Regions from separate parts of the Homo sapiens genome. Here all the other regions are linked to region 2. The links come from fine-mapping of genetic effects on gene expression. A gene starts in region 2. Each other region holds a variant in brackets. All regions are shown on one strand. Distances are between the middles of the regions.

Evidence for each region.
Region 1: its variant is fine-mapped to the expression of BASP1 in whole blood (TOPMed, PIP above 0.99).
Region 3: its variant is fine-mapped to the expression of BASP1 in whole blood (TOPMed, PIP 0.99).
Region 4: its variant is fine-mapped to the expression of BASP1 in whole blood (INTERVAL, PIP above 0.99).
Region 5: its variant is fine-mapped to the expression of BASP1 in whole blood (TOPMed, PIP above 0.99).

The regions. Positions count from the first base shown.
Region 1 is chr5:17,253,668-17,258,765 of GRCh38, forward strand. All of the region lies in intron 1 of BASP1 (brain abundant membrane attached signal protein 1), which reads left to right. Among named protein-coding and RNA genes, the nearest start is that of BASP1, 39 kb to the left of the region's middle. The variant ATGCAT/A (reference allele first, on the strand shown) is at 2,079.
Region 2 is chr5:17,214,683-17,219,778 of GRCh38, forward strand. It overlaps BASP1 (brain abundant membrane attached signal protein 1), which reads left to right and starts at 2,949. Exons shown (of 2, transcript NM_006317.5): 1 at 2,949-3,128. It overlaps BASP1-AS1 (BASP1 antisense RNA 1), which reads right to left and starts at 2,740. Exons shown (of 3, transcript NR_027253.1): 1 at 1,395-2,740. RefSeq lists silencers at 2,745-3,224, 3,715-4,034 and an enhancer at 4,069-4,849.
Region 3 is chr5:17,433,717-17,438,822 of GRCh38, forward strand. All of the region lies in intron 1 of LINC02217 (long intergenic non-protein coding RNA 2217), which reads left to right. Among named protein-coding and RNA genes, the nearest start is that of LINC02218, 7.7 kb to the right of the region's middle. The variant C/G (reference allele first, on the strand shown) is at 2,810.
Region 4 is chr5:17,236,638-17,241,743 of GRCh38, forward strand. The region is part of intron 1 of BASP1 (brain abundant membrane attached signal protein 1); the gene reads left to right. It also overlaps the pseudogene RNU6-1003P. Among named protein-coding and RNA genes, the nearest start is that of BASP1, 22 kb to the left of the region's middle. The variant C/T (reference allele first, on the strand shown) is at 2,810.
Region 5 is chr5:17,398,590-17,403,695 of GRCh38, forward strand. No RefSeq gene overlaps it. Among named protein-coding and RNA genes, the nearest start is that of LINC02217, 2.9 kb to the right of the region's middle. RefSeq lists enhancers at 2,197-2,842, 2,843-3,488. The variant G/A (reference allele first, on the strand shown) is at 2,524.

The sequences.
Region 1 (5,098 bases), 39 kb after region 2:
CATATCTTTCAGAACTATTGTCTTAATCATGAAGACCCTCAATTACCAAATTGAGAAGTTTATGTTGCTTTGACCACCATCTGTGTGCATCCCGATACCTGGGGTTACAGACTGGAATCTGTGATCAAGGGAGAGCGTGGATACTTGCTTTATTAACAAATTTACGTGTGTTTTACTCACCAGTGATGAGAAGACCACCGACACATTCAGGAGGCTTTATGGAACAGAGAAATCCTTCAACATTAATTACTGTATCTAGTGTTTTTTTTTGTTTTATGCAAAAGATGTACGTAGCTATTTTGGAAAAGCATTATAAGTAGAACTTGCATGTTGATAGCTTTAGGATGTGTTCAGATTACAAATCTCCATTTGTACTATACTTGAGTTTTTGGTAATTTGAACTAGACTAGATCTTTAAGGGAAAAAATATATATATATTTTTTCTCAGAGAACAAACCAGGAAAACTTTAGCATCTTGAAGGTAAATTAGTGTTGATTATGACAAGTGAGAATAATTAATTTGCAAATAGTCATAAGCAGATTATCTTTTTAGCAGTTAGTTCTCATTTATTTGTAATTGAAAAAACAAATATCTGCTAACATAATTGTAATTCATCTTTTGTGTTCATTTTTAAAGTGCCTGTTCCTTTCCAGACAAGCTGCACTCATGCATGGCAGTGTTACAAGGGTGGGCTTGTAGACTGAGTTTGGGAAGTGCTATGAATCTACTAGGATCACCTATCACAATCAAGATTCCATAATTCCAAGTAAAGGAAGATGCTTTTGCCTGACTTAGATGATGGTTCGGATTCTAGTGTAGTTTTTTTTGGAAATGCAGTTCTGTCACTTTCACAGCTATGTTACCAATGAAATAAGTCTGTGTGAATAAGTAAAGGGAGGTAAGTTGATAAAAGCATTCAGTTTGCAACGGATCTGCAGTGCATCATGGTGCTCAATACAGTTTTTGAATAATCACATTTATTTATCAGATTTTAATTGGAGAAGATTTGCAGATCCCACCTTTGAATCATTACAAAGTATGAATCCTGTCATCTAGAATACTGAAATTTAGTATGTACCATGCTTAGGACTGATCCGAAGACATTTTAGGTTTGAATAAGAAAAAAGAGGCAAAGAGGCCCAATATAAAAACAGAGAGAATAAATCTTAAAGCACCATCTATGTTGGATATCCTTATTGCAAGAGATCCCACATTGGACAGACGATTTCAGTTGACACCAAAGGAAGTAAGAATTTTCTGAGACTGACGGGTATCTTGGTAAATGTTCCCTCTTTGCAGGTGGTCGTAGATAATTTCAATTCACCCTCTGCTTTCTTCGAACTGACGAAGGTGTAGCTTTGATATTTTCCCCTCTTCATGTTACATGATCATTTATTCTAACTGGCAACATTTTATTTATTTATTTATTTGGACCCATTGTTCCAAACATGTAAAAGATTTGGACCTGCAAATCTTTCTATGTTAGTATTTATTGTATTAGTGTTTGAGATACCTGGAATTTTGGAGATGAAGTGACTCAATCCATTTATTTTCTAGAAGAAATCTTAGAGATGTGAGGGACAGGTGTAGATTCACAAGAGCTAGGACATGCTGTTCTAACAAAAATCCTCCTTCCCTTTGGTTCAATTTTTAATCTATTTTAGGTCCTTCCATTTCACATTAATGACATAGTAATCTACCCACTTAAAACTATAATAAGTTCACTAGGTTTTTTTTTCCCATTAAAACAGACTCATGAGTCATAGTTTACTATTACTTTCCAAGCTTTTATTCTGTATTTTCCTTAACATCTGAGAATCATGTGGAATCTGTGGTACCTGTGCTAATCTGAAGCCACTATGTATTTTGAAACCTCTTGCCCCACGTTGGATGCCTGGTGTCGATCAGGAAGTGTTGCAACGTGTAACACATCACTCACCACTCTTGACGGTGTTACAGGGTAGGAAGTTGTAGAGATGCAAGGCTGACTGTGGACGTAAATAATAGAACATTCAGAATCATCACTGAGGCAGAGTTTTGCCAGCTTGTATAAATCAGGTAAATTTGCTCATGTTAA[ATGCAT/A]CTCTTTCACTTCCACCTTCTGTTTCAAGTTGACAATGTTTGCATTTGACTCCTATTAAGACACTATGCCTTTCCTCAAACATATCTGTTGCAATTTCATGATTTCTTAAGACTAATGCTGTCACCAGTATATTTCATTTAGCAACGTCCTGCACACCAGAGTAGGTTTCTAGATAGGGAACTCAAGATACTCACATGAAGGAGGCATGGGCTGAGTGTGTAGGGTAGAAACTTGGTCTTTGAATCAGAAGGAATTTGCACCCAGCTGAGGGAATCTTGAGGTGTCCTCTTGTTGACATCTGAGGTTTCACATGCTCTTCATTTGTCTGGTATCTGCATGACTTGCCTGCACCCCACTTTTTTGCAGCTTCCACCTTGGCCCATATCTCAGAGCACAAACAATTTGAAGGACATTCCAAGGTGAATCCAGAAAACTACATTAGGAAAGATTTAGGAGCCTGCCTAGTTCTTTTCTACTCTAACTCTTGTGGAATAGATTGATTTTTCTGTTGTAGTTTATTTGTTAAAATTGTTTAAGGCCACACTGTCAGAATTTAGCTCACAGGCTAGCATCGGCTCTGCTACCTTTGACCCTTTTAAGAGTCATAGTTTTCCTATGATGTAGAATGGAAAGATCTATGGGCAGTCAGGGTCGACCTTTGGGTGCCCTGCTTCTAGTGCAGTGCCTGGATGTTTGTGTCATTTCTCAAATAAATAAGTGAATTTGAGTGCTCAATAGAATCTAGTTGTGTGTATACATTATTACTGCACGTTTGTGCAAAAACTAAAAATTATAGACATAAAGGATACAATTCTAGTCATTTATATTACAAATGAAATAACCAACCCTGGGAGGTTAACAGTGGCTTGTTTAATGTCAGCAGCTAGTTTAGTGGCTGTAACGAGACTGAATCCCAAGTTGAACAGAAATCGTTTAAAAATTCAAGTTTTAAAAATCAAGTACAATGAATGATATTGGCTGCTTTTCTAAGGAGAGTGATTCTCTAAGCCTATAGGAAAAAAATACTGGTGGCTGACTTGTGGCCTTAATTGCATGCTAAGGTTGAGGAAGGATCTCCAGTAATTCTTTGCTTTACTTTGTGTTTGAATATAGGATTTTATAGCTGTGGGTGGAAAAAAAAATATTTCTAGGGAAAAGGTTTCCTGATAATTTAACTGAACCCCAAACAAGTGAACTGGGTGAAACAGAATATGGCACATGGTCCTTTATCACAACCTTTCTACCTAACCTAAAGCCAGTAAGATGGAAATAGTTTGGAAAAGACACTATCTGCTGAGGTTGCTTTAAATAGAGTCTCTCCTGGGACTTAGAACACATTTTGAGGCTCATTCTCCCTTTTGATAGTTTCTTGGAGACATTTTTCTGTATATACTGGATGCAGGCATTTGTATTCCTGGATGGCATTCATCTTTTACCAGTGTGAGGAGGCTGTTTTTATCATTGTGAGATTTATTAACATTTACTTGCTCTTAGAATCTACAGATTATATAACAGATATTGCAGGCTATAACCTAGAATTTAAATATTAAAAAGAGTGATTAAAAAACAAAACAAAAAGAGTGATTCTTTTTGTTATAATTGAATCAATTCCTATTGTTTACCTGTGTTGAATACAGTAATTGGTCCCACCGATCTTTTACTTAATCTTGAAATTCAGAGTTATTCTCTATTCTACATGAATGGAGCTGGGAAATGGTTTTAGGTAAATGAAGGTAAAATGTACTGAATACCTACTGTGTGTAGTGAGCTGAACTATATCCTTTACTGCAAATATTCCATTTAATGCTAACAACCACCTCCCCTTCTATTTTCTTCTGTAGGCAAAGGTTGAGTTCACTGAGGCTGACTCCCTGCCCCAGGTCACATAGCTGAACGTGGTCTCTCATCCCCTTGCCTATGTGCTTTTTTTCACAGAGTATATTGGATTGAGATCCAAAACTTATTGGCAAGCCATCAAAGTTCCGCTTGAACTAAAAGAGGAAAACCTGTTTTCTGAAATGTGAACTTTAATTACATAAAATGGAGGCTTCTGAAAACAGTATTGTCTCACAGGGCAGGCTATAAACCTTGAACAATGGAAGCTTCATGTTGTGTAAGAAAGGAGCTTACAGAGCCAAACAGCACCGTTCCTGTGTTTCCCCTGCCAGTGACAGGAGCATCTGGGGTAGCAAGGGGACTGCCCAGGGCCTGGTGTTATCATCAGGGGTTCTTGAAATTGCTCACACTGCTCTTGCTTTTCCATACAGGCTGCTTATATCTTGCCTCCTCTGGCTAAACTGTGGTACTAACAAGACGGCAGTTGGCTGCTGGGGAAATTCTGATAGGGAGAGTAGGTCTGGGTCATTCTAATTTATTTGTGGCTCTGGTAGCAAAGAGAACTCAAAGGCAGTATATCTCTATAGCTGATGAGATTTCACTGGGGCCGACACCACCTGTTCTGTGCACACTCACTTCTCGGTTAGACCTGGCTAGGTTTTCTGCTGTGCTTGTTTTTAGCTTTGTAACCAGCAGTAATCACATTGGTCTTTGGGATTTTCATGTTTCAGGTTTTACAGATGATGCAAAAGCATTAGTTTTCAAAGTCACTGCAAATGCTATGTATATGTATTTCTCAACATGCAGCCCCTGCACTACTTGTTTTGGTGTTACCTGGTCAACTTGGTAGAAAATAGATTCTTGGGACTCATGCTGAGCCCACTAATTAATTATCTTGGGAAAGAGATAACACTCCCCCCACCTATATTTTTAACAAGCTTCTCAGATGATTCCTGTTTACATAAATTTCACTCCCAATATTAGACACGTTATACAGAAACATTGGCAAATAAGAGGTTGAAGTGACTTTGTTCTGAGTCACATCATGAGTAAGGGGCAGTTGGTATTGAATTCTAGTTTGTGTTTCATCCCCAAGTCTGGGGATGAAATGCATCGTCTCTGGAATTCCATGGCTGGGGACAAATACCCTCTGTTATGTTTTTAAATGTCACAGCCCT
Region 2 (5,096 bases):
AGGTTTATTCATTTATTCCCTAAGCATCAGTTTAAAAAAATGTTTTAAAGAGCATACACATTAAAAAGTATGATATTAGATGAACAACTAAAAATTAGACTAAAAACATCGCCAAATTGGATTTTATATAGTAATATTGTTACATTGAGAGGTAACATTTTGGCAACCATTTGCTGCAAACCTACAAATTCTGTAAAAGCTTCTAAAGATTAATAGCACTATCAGTCAGTTGCATCATTATCTCATTGAAAATGAATTCTCACCCTCCTTTAAAAAAATTTAAAAAAATGTTTTAAGAGAACAACTAAATCTGATGGAAGACAAAATTAAGGAGACCTGCAGTTCTCCTTGTTGGTGTAAGCTTTTGCCTCCGGTTTCTATGGTAACCCGTGATCTGTATTCCAATCACACCTTTGAAAGGTTTGTTTTCTCCATCATGAAAATTTAGCTGGAAGCACTGAAGGTACTGAACATTAATTTTTATGTTGTCTTTTTTTTTTGGAAAAATTGGAAAAAGAGAATAGAGAAGGAAGATAACACCCACAGGCTTAGACTGCAAATACAATGAGGAAATGTATTTGCTAATTTTTAGATGATTTACATGCCTGGAAGATCACAAGGATAAAAACCCTGAATGCTAAATGAACAAGTAGGCAGCTCCTCTAACAAACTCAGGAAATGTCTTGAGCAGAACATTGCAAATATTCATCTAATTCGATAGGGTAAAAACCTAGAGACTTGCTCATAGAGGTTGAAAGAAAATGTAGCTCAGTGGTTTTCAGCCTGGAGTGATTTTGCCTCCCAGGAGACATTTGGCGATATCTGGGGACATTTTTGGTTGTCACAACTGGTGCTGGTGCTGGTGGTGTGTGTGGAGGGTGGTACTGGCTGCTAGTAGAGGCCAGCAATGAATGCCAGACATCCTACAGTGCATAGGACAGCCTTCCACAACAAAGAAATATCTGGCCCCAAAAGGAGGTGGGAAAACCTGCATCCTCCATTTAGCTTTATAGATGGTGTACTGGTGTGAGGGAAATAAATATTCAAAAGAATAAAATGCTTTAGAAGCAACCTCATTTGTAATTTGCTTCCCTGGTATTTTACTACACTAACTTTTTATTTCACTTTAAATGGCAGAAAGAGAAACAGGAAAAAACAAACAGTTCCCGCTTTTTTCTTACCTTTGGTTTAAATTTGAACATTTCCAGCTGGCATGCATTAATCTAATTTGGTGCTGCCTCCTATGACCTGTAAATGTGTACAGTAGGGTCGTCAAGTGTTTCCACTGCAAAATCGCTAGTGCAGTTGAGTAAATATTGCCACTTTGCTTAATTCAAATATGTACGTTAAAGTTACGATAAGTTAATTTTCCTGTTAAGTGAAAATGCACTTACCTTTACCCAGTTGAATACAGATGTACTTGCCTTTGACGTCTGCCTCCCTAAGTATGGTTACAGTTTGTCACTCCGGTTCTGGAGGGCCACCCTGTCCCTGAATTCACGCCCAGGTCCTGAGGGCAGAACCATCCTGAGGACAACCTGCAGCTCCATCGATTTTTTCTTGGCTGGGACGCAGGCGAGCATGAAAGCGATCCAAACACAGCCAGAGGGCGCCAAAATGCCGCAAATAAAAGTTCCAAAGGCGTCAACTGGCTTTTGCGGGAAGGTAAAATTGGCTTTTGTGTAATCAAAGAGCTACCGTTGTCAACGATGTCACGTTACGTTATTTTTGTATGTCCCTCTTGCCAACAGGTAAGCAAAGTGAACGCATCTTCCTACCCCGGTGGCTATTCTGTGTCCCGGTGCTAAACCAAGTGTCCGCCCCCTTAGGGCACCCGGACAAGCCGCGGTTGGCCCTAGCTTTGACTCGAGCGCTCGCAAGCAGCAGCGTGCGGGCTGCCTCGGCCAACCCCGTCTTCTCAATATTGGTGGCCTCCATTAAAGCACAGACATCAAAAACATCGACGGCCCCTTTCCCCTCTTCTCTTCCCTCCTTCCTCTCCCAAGTTCCGAGAGCATCCTCCGAGGGGCGACGTCTCTCGCCCCACCAGCTGGACCTCGGCGACCGCGCCTCCCCCGAAGCTGCAGCCTTCGGGGCTGAGCCCCGCGGGTGCGGGTGCAGGTGCGGAGCCGCCCAAGGTGCGCAACTCGTTTGCAGCGGCGCAGCCCAGACGCGCCTGCAGCTGGGGCTCACCCCAACCTCGCTGCCAGCCGAGGTAGCGGAATCGTAGTCGACGTCGGGAGCGGGCTGGACTGGGGTCTGAGAAGGGTAGCTGGTGCCAGGGGGTGTCATTCATCACCTCGAGGCAGCTCCCTAAGTCTGAGCGAGAGCCCGAGCACTTCTTATCCAACGGTTCCAAATAAATGAGGGGGAGAGAGAGAGAGAGAGTGAGAGAGAGAGAGAGAGAGAGAGAGTGAGTGAGAGAGTGAGAGAGTGGGAGAAGTCCACGGACAGCCCAGGCGGCGCGGCGGGGGAAGGGGGACGCAGGAATGGAGGAGAGGAGAGGGGAGGCGGAGGGGGGATCTGAATAGAGGGCATTTAGGAAACGTTGGCGGGGCACAGAGTTGGGAGGTGGGGGGAAGGGAGGAACCAGGATGGCGGATAGGAGAGAAATGGGGGTGACTGTGCTGGAGGGGAGGGGAGGTGGGGGCCCAGAGCTGGGGGGAGTCAAGGGGAGGCGGGCGTGTCCAGGCTGGAGGGGAGAGGGGAGGGTCTGCGCCGGAGGAGGGGAGGGGAGCAGAGGGAGTGCAGGGGGTGGGGAGATGGAGCTGGAGGGGGTGGAGGGGAGACGGGCGGGGCGCCGGGCTGGAGGGAGGGGAGAGAGGCGGGCGGGGAGCGCGGGAGGAGGGAGGCTGGGCGGGCGGACGCGCGGGGGGAGGGCACTGGGCAGGAAGGGGAGGGGGAGCGAGCGCGAGAAATGCAGAGGCTGCAGCGGCGGCGGCGGCGGCAGTAGCGGCAGCGGCGACGACGGCGGCGGCAGCGCTCCAACTGGCTCCTCGCTCCGGGCTCCGCCGTCGAGCCGGGAGAGAGCCTCCGCCAGCGGCCAGGCACCAGCCAGACGACGCCAGCGACCCCGGCCTCTCGGCGGCACCGCGCTAACTCAGGGGCTGCATAGGCACCCAGAGCCGGTAAGGAGGCGCGCCCGGTGGCCCCGCGCCGCCGCGGACCCGGGGGCCTCCGTCCCCCACCGCGCCGCGCCCCGCCCCGCAGCCCCCGGGCTCTCCCTTCATGCAGCGGGCAGCAGGGATGTGGGCCCGGATTGGACGGCAAGGGCCTGGGGTCCCTCTGTGAGGGCTCCGTCGCACTTCGGGGATCCCGGGTGATGGGGGGCCCAGAAGTGGGAGGCTTCAGCCGCTCGCATGGTGGAGGGGTGAGGGGGGCGGCGAGGTTGGTAAACGGAGCTGGGGGGAGGGGGCTGTCGGGGAGAGGAGCTGCGGGTGACGGGAGGAATTGCCGAATGCGAAACCCCCTCAGTGCGTTGAGTCCCGGGGAGACGGTTCTGTGGGCTGAAGGGAGCGCTTCCGTCATCGGAGCCCTTACCAGCCTGGGAGAAAGCGCTCGGGGCGAGGGGCGCAGCAGCCAAAGATGGAGGGTGGGGGTGGGGTGGGGCGGGAGTCCGGGGAGAAAGAAGATGGGGAATCTGGCCCGATCAGAAGGAAGTGGGTGGCTTTTTGCTTTGGCAAACGGGTTTTCTCGACCCATGGGACTCCTGGATCTTGGTTCTGGGGCCAAGGAATACGAGGTTCACACGGCGACGTGCACTCAGAAGCACCTCCCGAGCAGATCGGAGCCCCAGCCTCGTCAGTGGCGGAATTGCCTTCCTACGAACCCGTGGGCTGCCTCGGAGCAGTTTGTTTTTTCGAGCCTTTGGTTCCAAGAATGCGCCAGGCGCCTCCGCCCTGGGTCCCGGCCCCGGCCCGGGCCCGGGGGGTGTGGGCTTGAACCTGACAGCGCGCGGCCCTAACTGGGCTCAGCCCCGCTGGGAGCGTAGGGTTGGGGTTGAGCAGCTTTTGCCCAAAGCGCTAAAGCTGAAACCCGGCGCCCGGTTCCTGCTCCCCCCGCCCCCGTCCCCCCTCCATTTCCAGAAAAATAAAAATTGCGGAATCCTGGATCCGATCGCACGCACAATGCGCGGCTGCAAACCGCATTCTTTTCATGAATATTCATCGAACGCTTGGCCAGGCTCCTTATCTGCGTCCCCAGAGACATTTCCGCCTTGAAACGAACTCGGTGGACAGCCCTTGCCCATGTAATTCTCACTCTGCTGAAATTAGCACAGCACACATGGGTGCATTTTTTAGGACCTTGTACAGGTTGACAACACCTCTGTCTCCCCCGCGGCCACTCGCACTGTGGGGCGGGCTAAAACCCAACACTAGCGTCGAAATGGCCTTCTGCTATAGGGTTGTGGACCGACCCCCCACCCCCACCTCCCGGGATTACAGCCCGGGCCAACAGACCCCCAGTATACTGCAGGCAAAATGAATGAATCGGGACTGTAATTACCTATTCCTTTGTCTTGGCCTCGCGCATGCGCCGGAGAGCAGGGTGTGGAGGGCCCGGCAGCCCCATCCCATCTCCATCATCCAGCCACCCACTCCCCTCCCGAGCCGAGGAACAAAGGCGTTTGCCCTAAATGTTGCGGGAAACCCTTGGACACCAATGACAGTTTTTCCCGCCTGTGTGTGTGTTTCTTCTTTTCCAGGCTGTCTCTCATCTTTTGCTTTCTTGCTGATTTCAATTGACCAAAATTAAGATTTGCCTTGATGAGGATGAAGGCAAATTGTGGATTAAATATTTTGTACCCGCACACTGTTATTTTCCTTTCTAGTACTGTTCATTGTTCTTTTTCCTGTAACATATCTTACTGCAGTGAGGGTGGCTTTCTTAATTTGCATCAATTAACCGTTTGACAGATCTTTTTTGGTCATTTGATTAAGGGAAGGTGGCCTCAAAACTGTCAGTGGGCGTTGCCTCCAGTGACACCACCTGGGGAAAATTAAGACATCTTGGCGTTTATTCGAACAAGATGGCCTACAAAAACCGGAGAGAAGAAAACGATTACCTTGTCGGGATCCTAACCCTTTCTGTTTTCT
Region 3 (5,106 bases), 220 kb after region 2:
ATTATTAAAATAAAGTAGGAGCAGTGAAATGATCAAAACAGAACGATAACAAAGGAAAGCTCAGTCTCTCCACCACTCTCTATTCAGTTCTTTAAAGCTGATATTTTTGGGGAAGAAATGCCAATATTATTAGATTAGTTTTCAGTAGTCTTTAACTTTGTTTTATTTTAACTTTAATTTTGTTTTATTTTTCAGGGAGGAGACTGTCATTCACCAGCAAACCCCTGCCCCCTCACTTTTTCTTTTTTGTAATTGGAAGTTCAGGTTGAACTGCTCTGTAGTTATTCACCCACTTCTGCTGGTCAAAGGCCCATGAGGATTTAAATGACTAAATAGGCCATAAAATGCCAACCTTTTAGACGTCTAAAAAGTGTCTGCTGGATCAAACAGTCATCACGAACCACCCTTAGATTCCTCTGCCACTCACTCTGCTCCCTGTGTCTGGGACACCCTGAGTCCACAGTGACTCTTTGCCAAAGTATAAAGAAACCACCATGTACCTTTTCAAAAATGTCCACTTGTCCTTAAAGTCATGAATAAAGGAAGAGATGGCTTCCAGATATGCAACTGGACTTCTGACAGCCATCATCCTCTAAAATTTCCCTGTGTTTTGACTGAAGTTATCCACCCACTTCTGCTGGTTCCTGGCTCACATAAACATTGAGCAAGTAACTTTCCATTAGACCCAGAGGATAGACTAGGATAGAGTTCCGAGTGTCTGAAAATTCCTGGTCCCCAACAAAACTGTGTTCTGCTCAATAATTTATTTCGTAAGAAGTTATAATAAGTCTAGTCATTAAATCAAAAGAGAAAAACCTTAATGAAGTATAATATTGCTTGGTACTTGTTTTTGTCAGTTCCATTTCTTCATTAACTTTTTGATTGGGAAAATAAAGATAATTACACAAATCTATTCTCAAATTTAGCCATGGATGATTTGATTTCTCTTTCTGTCTCTTCTGTGCCTGTGCATACACACACACACACACACACACACACACACTCAGAGAACAGAGTTGTCTCTTTCTCTCTCTATATATATACAGAGCATATATATGTGTGTGTATATATATGTATATGTATGTGTATATATATGTATATATATATATAGAGAGAGAGAGAGAAAGATAGAGAGAAAGATGCTCCTCAACTTATGATGTGTTATGTTCTGATAAACCCATGGTAAGCTGAAAATATTCCAAGTCAAAAATGCATTGAATGCACCTAACCTTTCAAAAACCATAGCTTAGCCTAGTCCACTATAAATGTGCTTAGACACTTAACATGTAAATGTGGAATACTTACATCAGTTTACAGTTGGAGAAAATCATCTATCACAAAGTCTATTTCATCATAAAGTATTGAATATTTCATGTAGTTTATTGAATTCTGTACTGAACATGAAAAACAGAATGGTTGTATGGCTACTTGAAGTACAGGTTCTACTGAATGTGTTTCACTTTCACACCATTGTAAAGTTGAAACCATCATAAGTTAGGGACCATTTGTGTATATACCTATATGAGATATATGTTAGTAAGATATATATGTAAACAACATATATGTAAATGAGATATATAAAAACATATAAATAACACATAGATCTCCTTGTTGAATCCTACTGTGTACAAGACATAATTTTTTATGCTGGGATTCAGCAGTGAAGAAAAGGGAGGAAAGCTCTTGGCTTCACAGAGCTCACACTCTGGTGAGGGAGAAAACAAATATACAGAATATAAGAAGGTGAGGGCTGGGCATAGAGGCTCATGCCTGTAATTCCAACACTTTGGGAAGCTGAAGTGGAGGGATTACTTGAGGTCAGGAGTTCAAGGCCAGCCTGGCCAACATGGTGAAACCTCGTCTCTACTAAAAATACAAAAATTAGCCAGTTGTGGTGGTACATGCCTGTAATCTCAGCTGCTTGGGAGGCTGAGGCATGAGAATCGCTTGAAATCAGGAGGTGAAAGCTGCAGGGAGGTGAGATCGCTCCACTGCATTCCAGGCTGGGTGACAGAACGAGACTCCATCTCAAAGAAAAAAAAAAAAGAAGGGGGTAAGTACCATATGCAAAAGCAGAGCCAGGTGGGGGACAAGAGTGTTCAAGAGTTGTCATTTACCCATTTAGATGATATGGTCAGAGAGGCCTCCCTGAAAAGGTAATGTCTGAGCAGAGACTTATGGGAGAAGAGAGAACAGGGTGAGAAGATCTCTGGGGGAGAAGTAGAAAGTGCAAAGACACAGAGGTGGCGATGAGCCCCATCTGGTTGGGACAGAGTGAAAAAGGGGTTCAGCTGGAGGGGCCTGAGAGGTGAGGGTGGCAGAACGTGTGGAGGTGTAAGCTCAGCAGATGGTGGACACCCTGGAGGCCATTGTGAGGCTCTGGTTCTCCCTCTGTGTGATTTCAAGATCCATTGCATGGTTGCAGCTGAGAAGTGAACAAGCCTTATGACCTGGTTTCTCTTGAAGAGGATCTTTCCGGTAGGTGCCTTGAGAAAAACACAGGAGGGATTGGGAGGATGTAGAAATTCCTATTTGTAAGGGTTTGCGATCTGGGTATATGTCCACTGAGCCGTGAACTTACTGTCTCGAGTTCTGTATTCTAGTTGGGACTGTTCTGCTAACTGCTGGAGGGTATTGGCACAATCACTTAACGTTTTATTCAGAAGGGAAATAGAAGTGAACACTTAGTATTTAAGTTTGAGCCAGTTTCTTCTTAATCCCTATGATCTGTAGCCTGCTAGGATCCTCAAGTTTGTTTTTCTTTTTTTCCAACACCAGAGCATGTGTCTTTGCTTGCCCCACCTCTGTC[C/G]TCATAGTTTCTTTACTAACAGCTCTGACTTCCCTTCCCAACCTCTCTTAGTACATGCGGAAGATGAGAACAGTGGACAACGGCTTTGCTAAGCCCTGAATTGTTCCGAAGTTTGAAGTTGTAACCCATGAGCTACCTCTTTTACAAAAACAGTCAAAACTGGATGTTAGAAATATTTTGGAGGTTAAAGGAAGAGTGTCTTGAACCTCCCTACCACTGAACTGTTTAATATTCTAGAATTTATGTTACACAGTAAAAGATAGACAACTCTGTCTGCAGTTCTGGGACTGGGATATGCCTGTGCATACACGCATCTGCTCTGTTTTGGTTTCACTTCACTTTAGTTATTTGATTTGGTGTCTGCAAAACCCTGTGTGCACATTTTTATGATCCTTGGGACAATTTACTGCCAACCTTGCTTGAACTCTAAAATATGCCTCCAGTTTCGGAAAACCACAAATTATTTACCAAGGAGGCAAGGAAATGGAGGTCACTGGGCTCATTTCTTACATAATTTTCAACTTCCTTTCTGAGGCCTGACATCTCCCGGCAGTCACAGTGATGTCTTCCTTAGATGGATTCAATAATGGGGAAGAACAGATGAAAAGTGGTGAAAGTTGCTAACTGCTGTGTTCCTCTGCTTGCTTTTCATGCTGTGTGCCAGGAATCAAAGCTGGAGGAGCGGAAGGTAGATATAAAGTAACCCTGTTTCCTAGGTTATTGTGTTTATAAAGTGTTAAATAGGAAATGCGAAAAAAAAACCCCTCTGCTTTGTGGGAAACAAGGTCATTTAAGGTACGAAAACAACAGTATTAAGCTAAAACAATAGAATAAATAATCACTAAAATGAAAGTACAGAACAGGTATAGAAAGTCAATCTTTGAAACATCAGCTGTTGTCAGTTTCTTTCAAGATAATTCAAGGGTGACTAACATATAACTAGCAGATACATTCAACATACAAGAGAAAAAGAGTGAGGATAAAAGGGGGCAATAAAATAAATAGTGGAATAAGTGATGACCATAGATCAAATGGAAAGGACAAGGAAGGAGGAAAAGATAGCTCCTATGTGTCTAGCTTGGAAAGATAATGACTCAATTGAGTGAATAGGGGAGACACATTGAGGGTTTGAAAGCCAGGAACTCAGGAATTTTTGTTTATTTTTATTTTTATTTTTGAGACGGAGTGTAGTTCTGTTGCCAGGCTGGAGTTCAGTGGCCTGATCTCGGCTCACTGCAACATCCGCCTCCCGGGTACAAGCGATTCTCCTGCCTCAGCCTCCTGAGTAGCTGGGATTACAGGCATGCTCCCCCACATCCAGCTAATTTTTGTATTTTTAGTAGAGATGGGATTTCACCTTGTTGGCCAGGATGATCTCGATCTCCTGACCTCGTGATCCACCCACCTCAGCCTCCCAAAGTGCTGGGATTATAGGCTTGAGCCACTGCGCCGAGCTGGACCTCAGGAATTTTTAAAGACATGGCAACATTCTTGTTGTATGGGTTTACTTATGACAGATGGGTACATAGGTCTGTCCAAAGGGGCTGGGATACTTTGTTACGTTTGAGGAATTTTTTTCTGCTAAATTCTCTTTTCCCTTTCTTCCAAGGAGGCAGGGTAAGGAGAGGTACCAGGTGCTGGTGGATTGTTTACCTTGGAGATTTCCGCCTTACGGAGGAAATAGCTGGTAGAGTCAGCAGAGACCTCTTCTGGTGGGCCTCAGGGTTGTGAGTTGAGCACTTGGAGCAGGGAAATATTGGATGTTTTCATGACATCAGTAGGATTTAATTCAATCAATGAATAGGACCCAGAAATAAATTAGCTGAGACGGGTGGGGGAAGAGGGGCAGAATCCCAACTGTGCTTAGTTATAATTTGAGATGTAGAATAAAGAGTGCTCCAGGAAGCATGGCTCCAAGCAAATGATGAGTTTTTGAATCCCTTCATGTTTATGATTTCATTTTTTTTCCCTTCATGCTTATGATTTTAATTATCTCTGTTTCCCAAAGTGATTAGCGGAAACAGTTTAAGATGAAATGAATATATGTGCTGGAAGGGGAGGCAAAAGTAGGGTGACATCCCACTTCATAGTCAGGCTTGTGGGTGGGGAGGGGATGGTGCAAGTGAAGAGCGAGAGGGCTTGCTAGTGTCTGAGAGGAGGAAGAAGACGAGGAACACGAGCTCAGTTCCTGAAGAAAGAAATCGATGGGAATCCAGGCTGATTCCACTTGGATCTGCAACACTTCAGACAAATCCAGAAGCTGGCAGCTAGAATGAATGTTTATTTCTCAATGGAAT
Region 4 (5,106 bases), 22 kb after region 2:
GAATATATCCTGAGAGCAGGTCCTAAGAGTTTATTTTTCATGTTATTGTTGGAAATAAAAACCCAGAAATATTTTAATAATAGGAATTAAAGATATGAAGACCCTGATATCTGAAAGCTGAGTGGTTCAAATATGGTGAGCAATGCACTCTTAACTAGACCCATATCTTAAGGGAAAAAAATGTTTTTAGTACTTTTCTTGGTATCTTCTAATCTTCAGAAAAAAATTCTTAATAGGCAGTCGATGTAAATAAAACAAAATTCTGTATATTTAAAAAGCTGCTTGCGCTACTGTGTCATTCCTCTGGAATTTTCAAAAGCTGAGATTTTTCTGTATACTTTGAAAGCTAATGAAATCTACCAGCCCACCGGGTAGTAAACAACCAAGAATTCTTGATGGAGGTATTGTAAAGAAAGGTGATAAGGTGGCTGGGCATGGTGGCTCACGCCTGTAATTGCAGCACTTTGGGAGGTCGAGGTGGGCGGATCACGAGGTTAGGAGATCCAGACCATCCTGGCTAACACGTGAAAACCTGTCTCTACTAAAAATACAAAAAATTAGCTGGGCGTGGTGGTGGGCGCCTGTAGTCCCAGCTACTTGGGAGGCTGAGGCAGGAGAATGGCGTGAACCCGGGAGGCGGAGCTTGCAGTGAGCCGAGATCGCACCACTGCACTCCAGCCTGGGCGACACAGCGAGACTCCGTCTCAAAACAAAACAAAACAAAAAAAAGAAAGAAAGGTGATAAGGCTATCTAATGAAGGACCCAAAGAACTCTCACTGAGCTCACCCAGAATGCTTTTCTGGATTAAAGCACAGACTGAGAACCTGTTCTTAACATTAGTGACTTCGGTATGGCTCATTTTGAAGAAAGAAAATTGCCTAAATCTATAGTTGAGCTTGCACACATTACAGGTCTCTGGAAATAAGATGCTTAAACAGGTTCTATAATCTGGTTCTTGCTAGGTGAGTGTCCCCTGACATTGCTTTTTTTTTTTTTTTTCCGTGATGGAGTCTCGCTCTGCCACTCAGGCTGTAGTGCAGTGGCTCACTGTAACCTCCACCTCTTGGGTTCAAGTGAATCTCCTGCCTCCACCTCCCGAGTAGCTGGGACTACAGGCATGCACCACCATGCCTGGCTAATTTTTGAATTTTTAGTAGAGACAGTGTTTCACCATGTTGGCCAGGCTTGTCTTGAATTCCTCACCTCAAGTGATCCACCCACGTCGGCCTCCCAAAGTGCTGGGATTACAGGCATGAGCCACTGTGTCCGGCCCCCTGACATTGCTTTCTAAAGTAAGATTACCTGTAGTTCTCAGTGTTCGCCAAGCATGTATGAAACACAACGTATGTTAAGAGGCTGTTTAATTACATAAATGCTTATTTGGGGGATTCTTGTTCTCAGTGGCCTTCTCTCTTTTGGATGGATATACACAGTTTGATTGGCACTCCTATTGACACTTTATTTGGTTTGTGACTTGTTTGTCTCGGTGCCTTTCTATTAATATATTTTTTCTATTTAAACTACCCTCTTTTTTTCAGTACAGCACTGGACATTTTCTTTGAAATCTTCCAGATTCATTTGGTTGTCTTCCTCATCTCAGCTGTCTTATGCAGGAAAAGTGGTCACTGTTCAGTCAATTCATTCTACGTAGCTGGCTATCTGAGTTTTTTTTTTATCGAAACCAAAATAAAACTTAAAAGAAACAGAAGAAGCTGAGTCTCCCTCCCCTCCCTTTCAACTAACACCTACTGATGTTTATCTTGGAAATAATTTGACGTCTATTTGATGAAACCTGTAGTTAAGTGTTAATGGAGACTAACGTCAAGCTTCAGAACAGTGAGGAGAAACCTTTAGTATTGTGTGTCTAGCATTTGATGCAAGTGCTCTGTGGAAACCATGGAAGCTGGGATAAAAATGCTCGCCTGATCCCCAGATAGTCTCATCTGAATGTACTGAGGCATCACCGCATTCATTCCAAATCTGAACCTGACCTACTTTTCCCCTTCATCTCCTGCCATCTCTTCCCTAGTTTGTCATCTTCTTTTCCAGCACCACGAATGGTTCATGCTTTCTGATAAATATCTGATGTATGGCATCAATTATATGACTATTTAAACATGACTCATAGTGAACTGTATTTAAATATTGATATGACTCCATGCGTTTTCAAAGAATGTGTGGAATGTTCTTTTTGAGTGTCAGTTATTAATCATCTGTTTTCCGTTCAACTTTGGTTATCTTCAGTAAATTTTAATATCTTTCCCTTCAAGAGGACTTCCCAGCTGTCTGATCAACGGGTAGGAAAGGACAGTTGGTTCAGTGCTTGCTCATGTTAGCCCTGTAAGAAGTCAGCTCAGTTTAGTTCATCCAATAGCTGGGGAATAAAACCACACAATTCCCTTCCTTACTTGATATCAATCAACACTTGACTAAATCTTACATCCTGTCTTCAGCTGTTTTTTTTTTCTTTTTTGAGATGGAGTCTCGCTCTGTCACCCAGGCTGGAGTGCAGTGGCATGATCTCAGCTCACTGCAACCTCTGCCTCCCGGGTTCAAGTGATTCTCCTGCCTCAGCCTCCTGAGTAGCTGGGACTACAGGTGCCCGCCACCATATCTGGCTAATTTTTTGTATTTTCAGTAGAGACGGGGTTTCACCATGTTAGCCAGGATGGTCTCGATCTCCTGACCTTGTGATCCGCCCGCCTCAGCCTCCCAAAGTGCGGGGATTACAGGTGTGAGCCACTGCACCCGGCCCAGCTCTTTCGTAAAGAAAGCCTTGGCAAATGTGGAAATTCTCCCTATTCACTA[C/T]GGTAAATAATTCTTGAGGTTACTAAACTCAGTATCTAAATAAAACAGATCAGTGTGTTAGTACATGGAACAGAAGGCCATATTTTTGGTTATAACCGTTGACCCCACACTCACCCTGGGGTCTTGGTGTCAATGTCAGGATGTGTTTAAATACCCTAGGCTGTCAATCTTGTAATACAACTTTGGTTATCTTTGTTCTAGAGCCTTGCAAAGTAAAGCTGATCCTAGTTAGGACCCAGTTAGGAATTTGGATATATGTGTTGTATTTGCATGTGATACTGCCCTTCATTTGAAAACACAGGCTTAAATTAGTGAAGTAGAACTCTTTTAGTCCAGATTACCCCCAAAATCTGTGAATTTGTACTAATTCAAAATCCTCTTTGCTGGTAACCGTTGTAATGAGGTCTTTGGAAATTTTATCCTGGTAGCATGGAGGTGTTGCTTCTTTTCATTTGTCTAGTTTTGTAGTCAGAACTGTTTATAGAGATGTAATTTTAAAGTGACCCTATGCTATGGTTTGAATATATGTGTTCCACCAAAATTCCTACGTTGGAACCTAATGCCCAGTGTGATGGTATTAAGTAAGAGCTGGGGCCTTTTGGGAAATGTCGAGGTCATGATTATTCCACCTTCACTAATGGGATTAGTGCTCTTATAGAACATGTTGGGAAAAAAATAAAAATAAAGATAAATAAATAAATAAATAAATAAATAAATAAATAACAGGTTGGAGCCCAGGAGTTTGAAGCTGGGGTGAGCCGTGATCATGCCACTGCACTCCATCCTGGGCAACAGAGTGAGGCTCTGGCCGGGCATGGTGGCTCACGCCTGTAATCCCAGCACTTTGGTAGGCCGATGTAGGCAGATCACCTGAGGTCAGAAGTTTGAAACCAGCCTGGCCAACATGGTGAAATCCTGTCTCTACTGAAAAATACAAAAATTAGCTGGGCGTGGTGGCGGGCACCTGTGATTGCAGCTCCTCAGGAGGCTGAGGCAGGAGAATCACTTGAATCTGGGAGGCAGAGGTTGAAGTGAGCTGAGATTGCGCCATTGCACTTCAGCCTGGGTGACAGAGTGAGACTCCTCTCAATAAAATAAAGTAAAATAAAATAATAAAATAAAAAACAGAGTGAGGTTCTGACTCTTTAAAAAAAGAGAAATAATGTGCCCACTTCATCAGCACATATACTAAAATTGGAACCATATAGAGATGAACATGGCTGCTATGCAAGAATGACAGTGCAAATTTGTGAAGCATTCCATATATTTTGGAAAATAAAAAAGTTGAAGGGAGTGCCCTAGTCCCCTTTTGTCTTTGATCTTGGACTTCCCAACCTACAGAACTGTGAGAAGTAAGTATTGATTCTTTATAAATTACCCAATCTAAGGTATTTTGTTAGGGTACCTACTAAACAAAAAGATAAAACTCTTGTGATTTTGATCTTAAGTTGGAAACATAAAACCATCGTTACAGAGAAGGCAAAACTAGGCAAAGATTTATTTTTGCAATGGCATTTAAAAATATTTAATAGTTTCTTTTAATTATAACATTACAAAATAACACCTTGTAGTCTGGTGAGCACAGGCTTGCCTAGTGCTTAGCATGTGCCAGGCAGGCCACATTCTAAGCTTTACACAGATTGACATTTTCCTTTTTTTTTTTTTTTTCTTGAGGCCGAGTTTTGCTCTGTTGCCCAGGCTGGAGTGCAGTGATGTGATCTCGCCTCACTGCAACTCCCACCTCTCAGATTCAAGCGATTCTTGTGCCTCAGCCTCCTGAGTAGCTGGGATTATAGACATGTACCACCAGTCCCGGCTAATTTTTGTGTTTTTAGTAGAGATGGGGTTTCGCCATGTTGGCCAGGATGGTCTTGAACTCCAGGCCTCAAGTGATCTGCCTGCCTCAGCTTCCCAAAGTGTTGTGATTACAGGAGTGAACCACTGCGCCTGGCCCAAAGATTGACATTTTAAAATACAGCAGCTAGGTGGGGTGGATTCTATTATTATCCCATTGTACAAATGAAGAAACTGTGGCACAGAGAAATTAATAATAGGTTACGTAGCCAGTGTAACCCAGAACATCTTAGTTCATGTTGCATGTCTCTCATTTGCTGGAAGCATATCAGTCAACAAGAAAATTATTGTTTTGCTTCCAGTTTGAGTAATGTTCCTGTGACTTCTTTAAGTGCTGTATATTTGCTGCATTTGCTGGGAGTGAACGAGGCCCTGAAGCTTTCGTAGATCTGTGCAGGAACTGGAGTGAGCCAGTGTGTGCCACCATGGGTGTCCCTCGATGT
Region 5 (5,106 bases), 180 kb after region 2:
AATGAGCCACACTTTTTTTCTTACAAAGCAGCATTACCTTCTGGGGAGAATGAAATGTGGTTTTTCTTTGACAGATAAGTGGGAAAACCATCTGTGCATTTCCCGTCTGAATCAAGCTTAAGCCCCTCCCCTAGTCATCCAGGGCTGCATTAACCATGGACTACCGGTGCCCCAGCAAGGGGAGGCTGTGGATGTGGATAACTCCACACAGCTGTGCCTGGAGGCTGACGGACTATGGCAGATATTTCTCCACTTTATTCAGGGACCAGAATATGTTCACTTTGCTTGGAGGAACTGATTAATTAAGTGATGGACTGGAGAACAAAGAGGTAGCGGTTGATTATATTCATTAGAGGAAATAGAAAATTAACTCCTTAATTAAGGTATTATATTGTCATACTTCAATATCACATATTCTGCACTTCCTTAAAAGAGTTCAGTGTATTTCTTTTGCATGCCTGGTAATAACCTCAGGAAGCAGGACTGACTGAATATCATGATGTCTATTTAGCATTTAAAGGAACTGAAAAGTGGAAATGTACACGTCTCTTTCCCCCCTACTCTAAAGTTTAATTCAAATGCAATTGCAACCAACATTTCACTAGGAAGGTGGCTTGTACATTTGAATAGACAAATGGATATTTGGCACTTCTGTCCATTTTTCAACAAACTGTTGTCAAGTACAATTTTGGTAGCTTGAGGGTTGCAGAAGGTGCAACAGGTGGCTGCACCTCAGCTCTTCCTTCTCTAAAGGAAGAAATGCAAGACTGGGAAGATTGTTCTCTAACTGTGGCAGGTAAACACGGTCTGCTCCCAAAGTGAGTTGAGACCACTGGGGAATGGACTCTGTGCCCATGATTATAGAATTGAGATTACCAGTTGGGAAATTAGAGGCAACTTTCAGGTTTGTATAGCATATAGTTTGCTGAATCCAATTCCTATCTATCCTATATATTAGGATTTTCATTTTTAGAGCAAAAATTTGAGTTCGTCCCTCAAAATGCCTATTTCCTCTCTTTTTGGAGTTAATGTATTTTTAAGGAAGTGCTGCCAGCTCCAATTTCTACAACTGTCAATTCCTTATCTGCTATTTGGAAATCACTGCAGAGCCTGGATCATCGGAGGCAGTTTTGGGGCCATCTCCCATTCCCAGAATGGCATCAAACCTTAAATTGGAAGGTATCGAAGGAGGCGAAGAAACTATTTCCAGCAGTGAAGTGAACTAGGATTAAACAACTCCCCAACAAAACAAAAACTGAAAAAATGAGAACTGGGACCTAAATACCTCAAGGTGGTGAAATTGTCACTTATCAGAGCAGAACCAAACAAGACAGCCTTCAGCTAGAGCCAGCCTGAGAGCTGAAAGACCAGAAGTGAAGGGAAGGAAGCTTGGAGAAGGGGAGCAGAAACAGAATAAAATAAGTCAAAATAAAATAAAAGCAGCCTAGCCTAGTGGAAAGGTACAAGTGTGGTGGCTGATTGGCTGCAGATGGAGACTGTAATTTTCTTAGGCTATCAGTGACTAGCAGGCAGTGACAGGGAAGAGGGGGTGTCAGGTCTGAGGAGAAGAAAACCGGAACTATTTTGCTGTGTAGAAAGTCACCATGCTACACGTCATGGCCCACGAAGGGCTGATTATATTACAGAAATATTATATTATATAATATTATATACAATATATAATATATAATATATAAATATTATATAATATATAAATATTATATAAAGAAATATTATATAAAGAAATATTATATAAAGAAATAGTGGCTCAGAATTATGATCTTCAGCTATCAAGAAAACTTTGAATCATGTTTGTGTATTTTACTAAGGAAGGAAAATAAGTTTATAATATATGACGTGTTTCATTTGAAAGTGAGAGTTTGAGTTAAACGGTTAAATTCAGCGATCTGGAAAAGTGTTACGTAGAGTCACGTATCCCTTGAAATATTGGGAAATTGATGTGGAAGTTATGCTGCGCCTCACCCTTGAGATGAAAAGATTGAAAATTAGATTTCACAGAACAAAAATCATTGCTGGGGGCAGTTTGTGAGACAACAATGTTGAAGAATAAAAGGAGTAAAAATAAAGATGAACACACACACACACAGATACACATACACACAATCACACGCTGACAGAGACATACGCCAACTCACATATACACTCACACTCATACACACAAACATACACTCTCATATTCACACATACACTCACTCACTCACACACGATCAATGCCCTCCGGATTCACTTTATTCTTTTCCCTCCCTTGCCTTTTTCTAGAAAGAGCTGTATTTGCTGTTTCAGGATTGCTAATGTGAAATTTACCCAGGTGGAAGGACCAGGAGGAGAGAAGTGTTTGCTGAATGAAAATTTGTAGCAGAATGTGGGCTATTCTCTCCCTTCTGTGTCGTCAAGTGACTTCTTTCTCCCCCACTCCCCATTTCAAGTTGGCCTTAGGCACACATTTCTAGGGCTTTCTGTGCTCATGTATTATTGACAGGTAATCCCTTTCTCCATTCCCAC[G/A]GGGCGCCGAATGAGTCCTGCGGTGAGCTAGCACTTTAGCAAGGGGAAGTTGGGAGTAAGAGTCTGTTATTTCATCATCCCAGCAAGCAGAACAACTAACTGCCTCCCTACCTGTTTGTGTATTAACTAAATGGACACCAACAAAATGTCATTAGGACGGGAAGTCCGGGATCTTGCAGTTTCAAGCCATTGCATCTCTAGCCCCTTCAGAAGAGAGATTGCTGGGCCCCAGGAGATGGTTTTGAAGGAGGAGGGTCGGTTGAAAAAGATCAAGGCCACTGCAGTGGGGCTGGGTGGAGATCACCTCAGTGATCCCTGGAATGCATTATTTGTCTTTTCACTTTCAAAATACAGGGTTCTAAGGCACATGTCTGTGAGGAAAGAAAAATAGAGCGTTCTGAGCTACATGAGGTATGAGAAATTTATCAGGCCCAGAGAGACAGAAGTATGGAACTCCAATCATTCCCTCCCCACCCTGCACCCCTGCCTGGGGGTAATGTTTTAAAGGCATTTTGTTCCAGATTAACTGCCTAACACATTATCTTCTTGTTGCTGGAATTTGCAATACAAAGAACACCTTATGTTATTTTAACATAATTTATTGGTAAACAACTCAGGAACTGCTTTCTTCTTTTTCCTTTAAAAATCCACTTGAATACTCTCCAGGGCGGCAATCCTCAAGCTTGGCCCGAATCAACTCTCTACTTATGTTAATTTTGGCTCAGCTTCTTCCTTTTAGTTGACAGCTGAGATGCCCAGAACATTGAAGGGACAGGTAAACATTTCGACAGTGAACAGATAAGAATTAGAATGTCTTGAGTTTAGAGAGAGCTTTGTGTTTGCTCTCTGACATTTGTTTACTGTGTGTGAGGCTTTTACAAGTGAATCCCAGGGTGGGATAATAATAGCCGTGGGGCACCAGCTGCCGGCTAGGCTTTGGGTGCCGAAGAATTTGTGGACATTTTACAGGCTAATAGATTTTTTTTTTTTTAAACTGCAGGAGTTCTGTGGGAATTCCTCTGCAAATTTTAAAATAAGTTGTAGGAGTAGGAAAGTGAGACTTTCTCTTTCTCTCTCTCTCTATTTTTCCAAAGAGCGAAAATGAGCCAAATTTAGAGCTAGTTTTGAAAGCATTTTCTCACTTTGCCTTAGGAACGAAGAGTGAGGAAAATCAAGTGTCATCAGCACCAGCTCTTTGAATGCGGGTGAGAGGAAACACAAAGCCCCGGCTTATTTCAATTGAGCAAGACAATGCAAGAGATTTAGAGATTTTAGGTCGTAAAGGACCCGTGAGCTCCTTTGTTCCAAAGTTTGTCCTATTGCCATTGAGGCATCTGTTTTCCAGTAACTATAACCCCTGTTTCCTGAATCAGGGCTGCCCGCTCGGGTGGGTCACAGAGAGAAAGCATCGTGGGCCAAAATGTGGGTGTTGGGAGCCATATGGTGGGTTAAGAGGAAGATGAGGAGGAAGAGGTTAAATTGGGCTCAGGGATCAGAGCAGGCAGAGGGGTTTCCAGGAAAGTTAAGACGCAGGGCAGAAATACCATTCAAAGAGTCAACATTGTAACCCTGGAGGTGGGGACAGATTCTTCCAAGGTTATCTCAGGACTAATCTCTCATTCCACTTTCAGACTTACAACTAGGAAAAATGTGTTCTTTTCCCTTTGAGCTAACGTGGGCTATCAGCTTAGCATACCTGCCCTCGTTTCATCCTTTCTTGCAGGTCCACTCCAGGACCTGCCAGGATTGCTGTGAAAGACTCAAAATAGGACCCTCTGAGCCAGTTTTCCAATTCTCTTTCCCAGAATTCTGGGGTGTGCCTGGAGGGAGAGAGGGAAGCTGAATCTTCTCCATCCTGCCTTTCAGGTTTCCTGTCTCAGGATTCCTGGTAACATTTCCTTTGGGAAAAAGAAGGGAGTTCTGTCAATTAACAAAACATTTGAAAAATCACTCATCCACTCTCTTCTCATTTTACAAATGAGGAAACTGAGATCAAAATAGGTTAATAGACTGACCCAGGATTCTGCCATTAATGGCACAGATTGAGTTACAGCTCAATTTTTCAACCACCAGGGCACTGGTGATGATTTTAAAGAACTAAGATAAGGAGAAGAAGACTAAGTGTTAAATGCACTAGCTGCATTTCTATTTTAAACTACTGTAATATAGTAATTCTAAAAGGCCTCTTTTGCTGGTTTGCTTCTTTTATGAAAGCAGAATCAAACTCAGATTTCTTGCTTTAAATAATTCAGTTGATGACTGAAATTTAACCAAGTGGTGAGTTTCCTCACATTTTTCAGAACAGCCCTTAAGAAACAAAAATAATTATGTTTGTTGACTTAAAAAATTTATAGGAATACTTACTTTTTCCCACTTTCTCCCTTTTTCCCAACTTGAAAGCTTAACCTCATTTGATCATCTTCCATTCAACTTTCAAACACTGTCCATACTGTTGTGTAGTAACCATGCAGTGTTCTTCTTCAGTAGGGGATAAAATGCAACCACTATCTAGGGGTGAATAAAAATATCTAACGGTATTAGCAAACCAGTATAAAGTGTACAGTAGAAAAAATTTAAACTTGG